2 linked regions of the Homo sapiens genome follow. The protein of the gene in region 1 interacts with the protein of each later gene in a pairwise test. Each region holds a gene or a part of one and is shown on either strand. Other genes may lie near its edges. The genes, in order: SGSM3 and RAB39B.

What was found.
Region 2: the proteins of SGSM3 (region 1) and RAB39B interact in a two-hybrid assay, tested with the Homo sapiens proteins (one study listed by BioGRID).

The regions. Positions count from the first base shown.
Region 1 is NC_000022.11:40,365,736-40,373,593, forward strand, and holds the start of SGSM3 (small G protein signaling modulator 3), read left to right. Parts: upstream 1-4,858; 5' UTR 4,859-4,953; intron 4,954-7,858. Other genes in the region: ADSL (adenylosuccinate lyase), read left to right, coding at 701-763, 1,734-1,883. UniProt on the Homo sapiens protein: May play a cooperative role in NF2-mediated growth suppression of cells.
Region 2 is NC_000023.11:155,257,522-155,261,809, reverse strand, and holds the end of RAB39B (ras-related protein Rab-39B), read left to right. Parts: intron 1-580; coding exon 581-1,007; 3' UTR 1,008-3,575; downstream 3,576-4,288. UniProt on the Homo sapiens protein: The small GTPases Rab are key regulators of intracellular membrane trafficking, from the formation of transport vesicles to their fusion with membranes.

The sequences.
Region 1 (7,858 bases):
TGGTGTGCGCCTGTAGTCTCTGCTACTCAGGGCTGAGGCGGGAGGATAGCTTGAGCCTAGGAGGTCAAGGCTGCAGTGAGCCATATTCATTCCCTTGCCCTCTGGCTTGGGTGACAAAATGAGATCCTGTCTTAAAAAAAATACAAAGATGAATAGATAATCCTCATCTTCAGAGAGCTCAAAACTTAGTGGTGAATACTTGTAAATAGGTCATTATGATACCAAGCAGTACGTGCAAGGACTGAGGGCTAAAAGACTAAAACTGGAGGTAGGAGACCAATAAGGAGGCTACTGCAACGGGCCAAGCAGTAGATGATGAGAGCTTGAGTGAAGGCAGTGGTGAGAGACACAGACCGGGGAGGGAGAGGAGGTTAAGCTCTTGGTGGCTACTTGAAGAGGGCTGGGAAGCAGGAGGAAAGAAGCTGTGGTGATTTTTAGGTTGGATGGAAATGGTGAAACCACCTGAGAGAACACAGGCTGGGCCAGTTTGCGGGAAAGGTTGGTGAGCATGTGGGCATGGTGGTTGAATCATCTGTGTCTAGGCAGAAATTCCTGATAGGCAGTTGAGGAAAACAAGCTCAGTGTTGGAGTAAAAGCTTCATCAAATTAGGTTTCAGTGGTATCCCCTGACATTGGAAAAGGTATTATCTGCTAATATCTTAACATTTTCTTTTGTCTTGTATTTGCTTTCCTCTGGCAGGTGCAGAGATTCTTAGAAGAGGAGGTGTATCCCCTGTTAAAACCATATGAAAGCGTGATGAAGGTGAAAGCAGAATTATGTCTGTAGAGTTGGAAGAGAATTAAACGAAAATCATTGTTAATTGCTGAGGCATGAAAATTGTGTTACTATAATGCCTTATTTTACCTCGAGAATTGTTACCTTAAATTAGTACAGCACTTTCTTCTTCCCATGGTGCTTTCCTGTTTCTCAGTCTCACATTTCTCAACAAGGCAAAAACAAAGAGCGTTGAAGTTGACTCTGCTCTTGCATAGTAAATGTAGTTCATACTTGATCTCTGTTCTTTCAAGGCATATTTTCCAGCTGCCTCAAGTTTAGTCCTTTTCACGTGTTCATTTGCTTGTAAAGTAGCAAGAAATTTCTGGTCCTGTCTTCTAAAAGTGAATTTGATCTAGGTCTAGCAAAATAACCTGGACTCAGTGATTGAGTCAATGGTCAGATACCTTTTATTTCGGTTATTTTTGGCTAGTATAAGTGATGAAGTTTGGAACTACAGTAAATACTTAAAAAAAAAAAAAAAAAGAACCAAACCCTGATGTGACCATCAGGCTGATTGAGCTGAAGTTGTGCCCAAGCTCATTTCATCTTTTGATAAGGCTTATACAGCAGGGAAATGCTAATTGAGTATATTGATTTCATCAGGGCCGCTGACAGTCTTTATTCCTTGTTGCATGGATTTTGTTGTTGAGGCTTGCTCTGTCACCCAGACTAGAGTGCAGTAGCACAATCTTGGCTCACTGCAACCTCCGCCTCTCAGGTTCAAGCGATTCTCCAGCCTCAGCCTCCCAAGTAGCTGGGATTACAGGCGCCTGCCGCCATGCCTGGCTAATTTTTGTATTTTTAGACGGGATGGAGTTTTGCCATGTTGGGCGGGCTGGTCTTGAACTCCTGACCTCAAGTGATCCGCCCATCTCAGCCTCCCAAAGTTCTGGGATTATAGACATGAGCCACCACACCCAGCCTAATCTTGTTTTCTTTTTTTACTTGTTTACAGTGTAAGCAAGTGCCATTGGACAAGAACGTTGTCTGTGTCATTCCTTGTTGTATTTCCAATAGCAAGAGCACATCAGATACTTGGCAACTAGGCAGTCTTCCAGCTTCTGCCACTGCGCCCGACTTCCTTGTTGCATGGATTTATAGCTGATTGAAGCAACTGTAGCCAAAGATTGAGTTAATTACCTACCTGCCAGGAGAGCACTAGTGTTATTTAGCCCATTCTCATCCTACATATTTTTCGGCATAGATGAAAATGAAAGCTTTTGTTTATCAGATTTGCAGATGACACAAAACTGGGAGAATTAACAAGTATGTTTATTTGGTAAAATAAGTTTTCATCTCTAACCTAAATCGGCTGAAATGATGTGTCCTAAACTAGAGGAAAAAGTTAATAAAGATCAATGTAAATAAGTTAATCTTAAACTCAGTATGCACCAGAACTGAGAGAAGACTGTTTTAGGAGGTGTTAATGGTTGTCCAGTGCCCAAAAAGCCACCAGAGGCTTACTGCTCCGCACTCTTGGCATTACATTCAATTTTGGATACCCAGTCTGAGGAATAGAGATGAACTGGAGAGCCAACCTCCAAAAAGATCTTGTGGTGGAGGAATGTTAGGGCTCTTTATCCTATACAGAAGAAAACTCCTCGGCACTTCAAATATTGCCAGGTGCAGGAAGAGTGACTTGATTGTGTGTTGCCCCAAGAGACACACTGAGCTCAATACCCATTACTGAGACTGGCTTGGGGCCAGACATTGGAACCACTGAGATTAGCAACCTACACTCAATCCCCCAGGTCAGGCAGAAGCTGGAAGACTGCCTCGTTAGGAATGTTGTGAGGGAGAGGAGGCTGAATCGGTTCCAGTTTTATTTAAAAGTAGCCAGGAAATCAGGTTGCGATGATGCGCATTTACAGTCCCAGCTACTTGGGAAGCTGAGGCGATAGGGTCACTTGAGCCCAAGAGTTTAGTCCAGGCTGGGTGACAGCGAGCCCTTGTCACTTAAAGCCAACCTAAGAGAAGAGCTTATCCTTTTGGAAAAACAATAGAAGACAATTCTGAAAACCAAATTCTGAACATAGGCTAGTATAGCAAGCAAGCAGGGATAGCATAGAGCCATTTGCTCAACTTCCAGAAAGAGTTACTCTGTTCATCTCTAAAAAATCTTGAAAAGGGCCGGGTGCGGTGGTGGCTCACGCCTGTAATCCCAACACTTTGGGAGGCCGAGGCAGGTGGATCACCTGAGGTCAGGAGTTCGAGACCAGCTTGACCGACAAGGTGAAACTCCGTCTCTACTAAAAATACAATCAACCGGGCGTGGTGGCAGGCGCCTATAGTCCCAGCTACTTGGGAGGCTGAGACAGGAGAATTGCTTGAACCTGGGAGGCAGAAGTTGCAGTGAGCCAAGATCATGCCACTGTACTCCAGCCTGGGCAACGGAGCGAGACTCCATCTGAAAAAACAAAACAGAAAAAATCTTGAAAGGATACTAAGTCTGACACAAGGAAATTAAGTCATGGGACTCTGACCAGATATTCTGTCTACTTCCTTCTCTGCTATGGGCAACTTGGAGGCAGCAACTACTATCAGTTTATCTGTAATGTGAGAATTTATATTACATAACAGATACTGGGGATATAGGATACCATGGATTTTAGTTAATACATTTCCTCATAGAAAATAAGGAAATAACAGTCTTGTTCCTGTCCTAACAATTCTGTTAGACTAATGATCTCCAGTGATTGGCGATTTGACCTGGTTTCTTCCTGGACTATTTGAATGGGTGGATTTGTTGGTGCATCTCTTGTCTTCTTTCCTTTTCCATTCTCCTTTATTTTTGTATTTACATACTTGTATGCAACTTTGTAATCTGATTTTCCCATGTAACATTTTAATTTGATGGGTGGTCTGCGTGTTCACTGGAAAACATATATATATTAAATGTACATTTATGTATATATATAAAATATACATTCATATATATTATATATAATATACATTCATATATATTATATATAATATACATTCATATATCTATCTTTTATATATATATATAGACAAGATCTTGCTCTGTCGCCCAAGCTGGAGTGCAGTGGCATGACCACAGTTCACTGCAGCCTTGATTTCCTGGGCTCAAGCGATCCTCTCACCTCAGCCTCTTGAGTAGCTGGGACTATGGCACACACAACCACACGTGGTTCATTTTTTGTTGTTTTTTGTAGAGACAGGGTCTCACTCTGTTAACCCAGGCTGTTGTATTTTCTTTAAGATTGGTTTAAATTCACACGGACTCCAGCATCAGAACTACCCAGATGTCAGGTTCTGGGCAGAACTTGGGGCAACTGATGAAATGTCTGCTCAGCTGAAGTCAGACACCTGGACACTTAATGCCCTCTTTCCCTGGCTGATGCTCAGTTTCATTTAAGAACCAGGAGAGCCTGATGTTTGTAAACACAGCTTTAGTGGAAGCACGAGGGTTAGGAGTCCCTAGAAAGGTGATATGAAGCCTAGGTGGATGTGAGGGTTGGTGAGATGGGAATTGCACAGCATAGAATCTGACACAGAAGGTACTCAGAAAATTTCGTTTTCCGGCCTGGCGCGGTGGCTCACGCCTGTAATCCCAGCACTTTGGGAGGCTGAAGCGGGCAGATCATCTGAGGTCAGGAGTTCGAGACCAGCCTGGCCAACATGGTGAAACCCCGTCTCTACTAAAAATACTGTACTAAAAATACAAAAAAATTAGCTGGGCGTGGTGGCGGGCGCCTGTAATCCCAGCTACTCGGGAGGCTGAGGCAGAGAACTGATTGAACCTGGGAGGTGGAGGTTGCAGTGAGCCGAGATCACGCCACTGCACTTCAGCCTGGGTGACAGAGCGAGACTCCATCTCAAAAAAAAAAAAAAAAAAAAATTAGCAAGTTATTTGCAGCGTCTATCTCCCACCACCCTGACTGCTGGTCCACACCATACTGTCCCAAGCTTCTCAGGCTGCGGTGCAGACGAAGAAATCATCGCTATGCATGCTGGCCTTGGGATGGGGGCGCAAAGCCCCTGGACGCGCCCCGCCTAGTGGGCGGGAACGACTACAGCCCCCAGCATGACCCGCGGCCGCCCATGCCACGCCCCGCCACGCGTGCGCTTAGGCGCCGCTGAGCGCTGACTGGGTGCGAGTGGGGAAGCTGCTAACCCGACCCGGATTGGCGCTGAGGTGGCCCGTGGGGCAGGTGAGTGCGGGGCGGGAGTCAGCGGAGACCCACCGGCGCCTACAAGTTCCCCTCAGGCGGGGGCTGCGGGGCGGCTGTGGTCGGACTGTCCGACCGAGGGTCGTATGGGCCGAAGGCGCCCACGAGAGAAGCACCGCCTCGGGCCGGAGAGCCGCCGGGCCGACCTTGCTCGCGTCGCCGTTGGAATGGGGGCCGGGGACGCGGCGGGGCGGGGAGGTCGGCTGCGTCCTCCGGTGCGGCCGCCCCTAGACGGCCGAGGCCACCTCAGGTGTTCGGGGCGCCAGCCGGAATCCACCGCGCTGGCAGCCGGGAGCGGTTTTACGAAAACCGCGCCTGAGGCGGGGGGCTTTCTAAAAAGAGCCTGGCTGGCTCTGGCACCGGGACAGCTGCAGACTCCTCCTCAGGTTTAACTTGCGGTTTTCCCTTTAAGATTCAGATCCAGGTGCAGAACCCGGGCTCGGATCCAGGCCCGAGACTCGGAACACCGGTGTGTTTGCATTTTAGCACGGGGGAAACTGAGGCATACGTTAGCCAGAATCATCCGGTGTGGTTAGGACTGGAATTTTGAAAATTATTCTCATACTTAGTTTACTGACCTAGGCTCTTTTTTATTTGGAAAGAAAAATAAAGATGTTTCAAAGGTTGTTTTCAGTGACTGGGTGACTAGTGTATCTTCCAGTCTCACGCTGCACGTTTGTGGTGGGTTGATGGCTCTTTTTTGTTTTGCGGTGGGATAGAGATGTCCTGGAATGTTCTACACCTTTCTTATTCTTTCTTAGTAAATTCAAGTCAAATCAGACTCTGATTCACAAAAACTCATTTTCAACTTCGACTCGTTTACTCGTAGTTTTTGTGACAGGTTTGTGATTAGGTTTATAGGTACATATGTTTCCCGCTTTTCTTGCTCTTTTAGTTCCAATTATCTCTGCACTCTAAACAGTTGAATTACATCTTTGTTTTTACACTATTTCTGTTCTTGGTGATTAATTTGTAATTCTTCTTTTCTTTTCTTTTCTATTTTTTTTTTAAGACGGGAGTTTCGCTCTTGCCCGGGCTGGAGTGCAATGACATGATCTCGGCTCACTGCAAGCTCCGCCTCCCGGATTCAAGTGATTCTCCTGCCTCAGCCTACCGAGTAGCTGGGATTACAGGCGCCCGCCACCACGCCCGGCTAATTTGTGTATTTTTAATAGAGACGGGGTTTTTCGCCATGTTGGCCAGGCTGGTCTCGAACTCCTGACCACAGGTGATCCGCCCGTCTCGGGCCTCCCAAAGTGCTGGGATTACAGGCGTGAGCCACTGCGCCAGGCCCGATTAATTTGTAATTCTATAGATATCTTTCCTGGCTTTTGATAATCCTAAGTGAATGTAGCTTTTTCATCCCTAATTATCATAGTAGCCTGAGCTTTAGTTCTTCTCCCTGTCCCCCCCCCCTTTTTTTTTTTTTTTTTTTTTTGAGACGGAGTCTCGCTCTGTTGCCCAGGCTGGAGTGCAGTGGCGCGATCTCGGCTCACTGCAAGCTCTGCCTCCCGGGTTCACGCCATTCTCCTGCCTCAGCCTCCCGAGTAGCTGGGACTATAGGTGCCCGCCACCACACCCGGATAATTTTTTGTATTTTTAGTAGAGACGGGGTTTCACCGTGTTAGCCAGATGGTCTCGATCTCCTGACCTCGTGATCTGCCCGCCTCGGCCTCCCAAAGTGCTGGGATTACAGGCGTGAGCCACCGTGCCTGGCCCTCCCTGTCCCTTTTTAAGCGTGGAGGTGTGTGGTCTGGGAGGGGAGAGGGTGAGGTGTCTATTGATCAGATATGGGTAATAGGTTAACATAACCCATGACCAGAACATTAAAAGGCTGTAAACAAACAATTGCTTCAATATAAAAACGCATACCTCGTGAATTTGGAAACATGTCAGGTTGATAGAAAAGTGAACTCGGGTAGAACCTCACAGAAATGAACCCGACATTAGGGTGAAATATTGAGAAGGGAAGGGAGGAGATAATCATCTCTTTTATTTTACAGCCATCTTTCTATGCCTGGAGTGGATGTAGGAACAGCCTGCTGGCTCAGAAGCTTAAAAAAAGCTCTGTGTGTTTTCAGTTTTTCTCTTCTTAGTTCTCAATGAAGGTTTTGGCAGGAGCCCAAAATCTTGTACATTTGATAATTTAACATCAGTTTCATCTGCTTACTCTCCAGATAGCCTGTTATTCAGCTGGTGACGTCAGTAATTTTCCACAGCAGCCATTCATGAGCTCATGCAGACTGTCACAAGGAAATGGGAATAGCACAATGAGTGTTACAGAAGAAAAAAAGATCCTGTTTCTTTGCCATCACATATTATACACAGACTTAGGGAATCTAGACTGGAGCACAAGATATGTGGGAGGGGTTAGAACACCACTCCTACCTGTAGTAATAATCATTGAAACCACTTATTGGATGCCTTCTGCTTACCAGACACTAGTTGTCACAGGTCACTGTAAGTGACAGGGCCAGAATTTAAGTCTACCTGACTCTAAACTCTGCTCTTTTGTCTGTGCTGTACTACCTTATCAACAACTGTGTTCAAGTCTTTCTCATTCTTAAAAATATATGAAACTTTCCTGTGATCATATTTCCCTTCAAATTACTACCATTTCTCCTGCTTTTCCTTTCTAGACTTGTCCTTAAGAAGCAGACTCTACATTCTTCTCTTCCATTTACTCCTTCATTCATTGCAGTCTGACTTCTACCCTCAACTCTGTTGAAACTACTCTCATGAATTCCTCTCAACGATTTATTGAATATCTACTGTGTATATCATCTTCTAGACTTATAAAGACGGCTAAGACATGGATCTTGCCCTCAGGTAGTTTAGAGATTAATGAGAGAGGGTAGTTTATACATGTCAATGTATGTTTCCCACT
Region 2 (4,288 bases), on another chromosome or scaffold:
ACATGGTAATGATAAATGGAAAAAATGGAGTAGCAAGATACCTACTTTAAATATTTTGTTAACTATCATAAATTCATTTCTATGTTTTAAAAATCCTGTTTCAACTGCTAGCATTTGTAATGAACTCTCCACGTCACAGAACACTTTAATATCCATTGTTTCATTTTGCCTCATGGTAACACTGTGACTTGGGTATCCTATTTTGCAGAAAAGGAAGTCTCTGTCAGTTATTCAGATTTGGGGGGTGGGAGAGTTAGTTGTAGTTTTACCTGAAGGCAAGAAATAGAACTCAGTTATGTCCCAGGGTCACTCTCCAGTGCTGAATCCATGGAAAATGCCTAAAAGTTCATGAACATTCGTTTCTAGAAGATGCCCATCTCAAAGTTTGGCCCAATTGGAAACTCACATATTAGTAGTAGTATGGAATGCCATTTGTATTCCTTTGTTTTTTTAAAAAAAAAGAAAATCATTTTTATTAAAGGACTGTGTCACTAACCAGGAACACTTGAATATACTGAGTTCATTGACATGCAGAAGTTTGGGCACAGCCTTTACTCTTTACTTCTTTCTTGTGTTTTAGATCCATCACTCGCGCCTACTACAGGAACTCAGTAGGTGGTCTTCTCTTATTTGACATTACCAACCGCAGGTCCTTCCAGAATGTCCATGAGTGGTTAGAAGAGACCAAAGTACACGTTCAGCCCTACCAAATTGTATTTGTTCTGGTGGGTCACAAGTGTGACCTGGATACACAGAGGCAAGTGACTCGCCACGAGGCCGAGAAACTGGCTGCTGCATACGGCATGAAGTACATTGAAACGTCAGCCCGAGATGCCATTAATGTGGAGAAAGCCTTCACAGACCTGACAAGAGACATATATGAGCTGGTTAAAAGGGGGGAGATTACAATCCAGGAGGGCTGGGAAGGGGTGAAGAGTGGATTTGTACCAAATGTGGTTCACTCTTCAGAAGAGGTTGTCAAATCAGAGAGGAGATGTTTGTGCTAGTCAGTTCTTTTATTTCCAAAACATGCTCTCCTACTTGAACTGAAAAGTAAGAGAAATAAATAGAATCTTTGTGTAACTGATGAGAACTCAACCTCCATTTGGATACCAAGTGAGCCTCCCTCTCAGGGGGACTCTGACAGACTCGTGTGCGGGTGGATGGGGGTGCCTGAGTGCTGTGACCAAGGGACTGAATTGCTGACATGGGCCAGGCCAGGCACTGTTTTGTGGCCCATGCTAGGCAGTGGCTGCTCCATGAGCCCTTTGTGGACCACATGTTAAAGGCCTGGGGTTTAGGAAGCTAAGTCCCAGGAAAACATACCTACAGACAGGACAACTGTTCCTTGGTATTTGAGCTCACTTATAGGCCATGAACATAAAGAAATACATAAAGGGGAAAAAAGTTTCACAATGGGGACAATTAGCATAACTAAACAAAGATTATGAGCTCTACTTATTCCGTGAGAATACCCTGCACCAAAGGTGTTTGCTGGGTTTGGTTAAAAGGTACCAATTAGCTTTTAACAGCTTTCTGTAAAATGAGGAACACAGACCAAAAGGTCTGGTGTTCAAGTAAAAATGATGTGACTATGGAAAGGAAGGCAATCGACACAGTTATTAGCACATTTCAGAAAATGAACACCCTTGTGATAGAATTACCAGCTGTATGAAACAAATTGTCCCATGCAAATTACCCTATAACTAGGAAAGAGACACTATAACCCAAATGCCATACCCCCTTTTTCCTTTGACCATGCCTGGGGTTTCAATGCCTTGGCACCTGCAATCTGGAAGTAAACAGTCTGCTTGCTTCTTCAGGCACGTGACAGTGACAACACAGTGACTGCCTCTGAAAAGAGCCCTGAGGCAAACACTCTCTCCTGCTGAACAGGAGGCACTGTAACCCTTACAAACAGCTTACAGTTACTTGGGCTACTTATTTGATCATCATAACAGGCCTACGAGGTTTTTGCCCCATTTTACAGAATAGTAAACTAAGAGCCATGAAAATCACTTGGCCAGGGTCAAGGACTCGTGACTCCTAGCTCTTTTCACTGCATCATACTGCTGTCAGATGAATAAATGATTATGAATTTGTTTACTTGGGAAGAGATATGACTATAAATAAATGTTCTCTACATGTTAGGATATGTTTTCCTTATTGATTACAACTCAGCTATAATCCTGAGGGAACATGGGAAGGAATCAAAGGTAAAGCCCATTCAGGCATTATTGACAAGAGGGCTTTAAACAAGTGAATAATTGCACAACTAAAAAGACATTAGAACTGTGTGGGCTATAAGTGTTCTTATCACTGAGACACAGTGGATTTTTATTGAAAGGAACCACGTACAGCAATGCGGAGTGGGATAGGGATAAAATACCCACCCCAAAATGACCTTGGCCACCTGTCTGCCATATACGTACACTGAGTTCCTGTCTACCCAAGAGAGTCAGCCCTTAATTCTCAGGTGAACAAACAGCTAACTGCATCAGCAAATTGGAATGGCTGGCTTGAAGTTTCCATTATTTTCTTGAAGAGAGGTGATGCTTTAAATTACTTTTTGGATTGTAGCCAGTTCAGCTAGGCAAAAGCCATACTTTTCACAATTAAAAAAAAAAACTATTCTGACTAGAGTCAGGTTTCTCATATCCATTGTGATAGGAAGGCCTAAGAATGGCAAATCGCTTTGAGATATAATATTGAACTTCAGTATGAATGTGACCGAATCTGAAACTTTGGGAATTTGCTTTAGCCAGAATAAAGAAACCAAATCATGAAAATTATGGAAGACTATTCTGCCACCTGTGCCCCAAGTTGGATGAGCAAACCACTTTGGATCAGTTCACAGCATTAACTACAAGTGAACTGATCATCTTCTCTATATTCATTTCACAAGAGCTGGCTTAGGTGGGGTAATTAAATTGCCACCTTCGTGGTTGTAAAAGACAAACAAAACATGGCAAATTTCATTAACACAAAATTTCATCAACTGCTATACTGAATTATGTTTAGAAGATTCTGAAAGCAAGATTATCCAGTGGGTAAATGAGAGTCGACTGGATTCTGTCAGTTCAAAAAAGGAAAGAAACAAAACTTCCCTACAATTTTCTTCACTAAAATTTATTATATGTACAGTATTCCCACTCCTGGCATTTTCTGGCAGGTTTAAAAATATTCAGCATAAATCCAGCAGAGGTGGCTGAGCTTAATTGCTTAAATAAGTTCTAGAAAATTTAAAAATCATTTTAGTAGAATTCAGTACCATTGTCACTGCAATAAGTGGGTTTTAGAAAATAAGTGTGAAAAGAATCAGGTGTTAATATAATACTAAGGATAAAGCTTTAGAAGCTATTTTACTACATAGGTAAAGAAAAGATAAACTAACTTGTAACAAAGACCACAACTGCATGTTGGATTAGATTGTCTCATATTTCAGAATAAAATGTACTGTATACTTTTCCTCACTTTGTTGTGCACTGTAATGAAATGTGAAAAATGCTTTATTTAGCTGTATGTGAATGAAAATATGCTTGTATTTAGTAAAATGATTGATTATGTGACTGTGAGATTCCAAGTGTGTGTTATAGCTATTTCCAGAATCTGTTACTACAGCGTAGCAACTACTACCAAGGATATCAATAAGATGTGACATATACCATACACAATCGTATTCACCATTACCTTAAAGCCAGAAAGAGAATATAATTTTTGAAAGTTATCTGACCATCATATCAAAAGTCCCTGGGACCTCAATACTTCCTGGTGAGCATATGCCACTTTGAGAAAAGTTGGTTCTGTCAAGCCTAAATCTTCATCATGATGATTTTTAATCAAGAGTCTTAATTCTGTTGCCAAGTAGTTGATTACAACTATTATGTTCCCTGGAAAGTCTTCTTTTTTCCAGGCTAAGTTGCCTCAGCTTTTTCAAATCCTACTACGGCATGCTTTTTATGCCAGGATCACTTACAGTGTGGCACCAACATAAGAACACAATAGTTCAGCACATTTCCCAGGATTGATAGTACACATGAGGGTGGGGGGAGGGTTAAAAAAAAAAGGAAAGATAATGGATTCTGAGTCTGGGCATAAGTAGATAGGTAGCCTAAGTTCTGTACAGCTTTATCACATTTATATTAATTCTCTTATAGATTTAAGAGACGTGGCTCCAAAAGTCATTGCTGACAGCTCAACCTAGAGTCTTACTCTTTAGTCTTCCCTGGGTAACAATAAAGTGTAGGGCACACAGAAAAGGGAAAGGAAACTTACAAGGAGACAATGA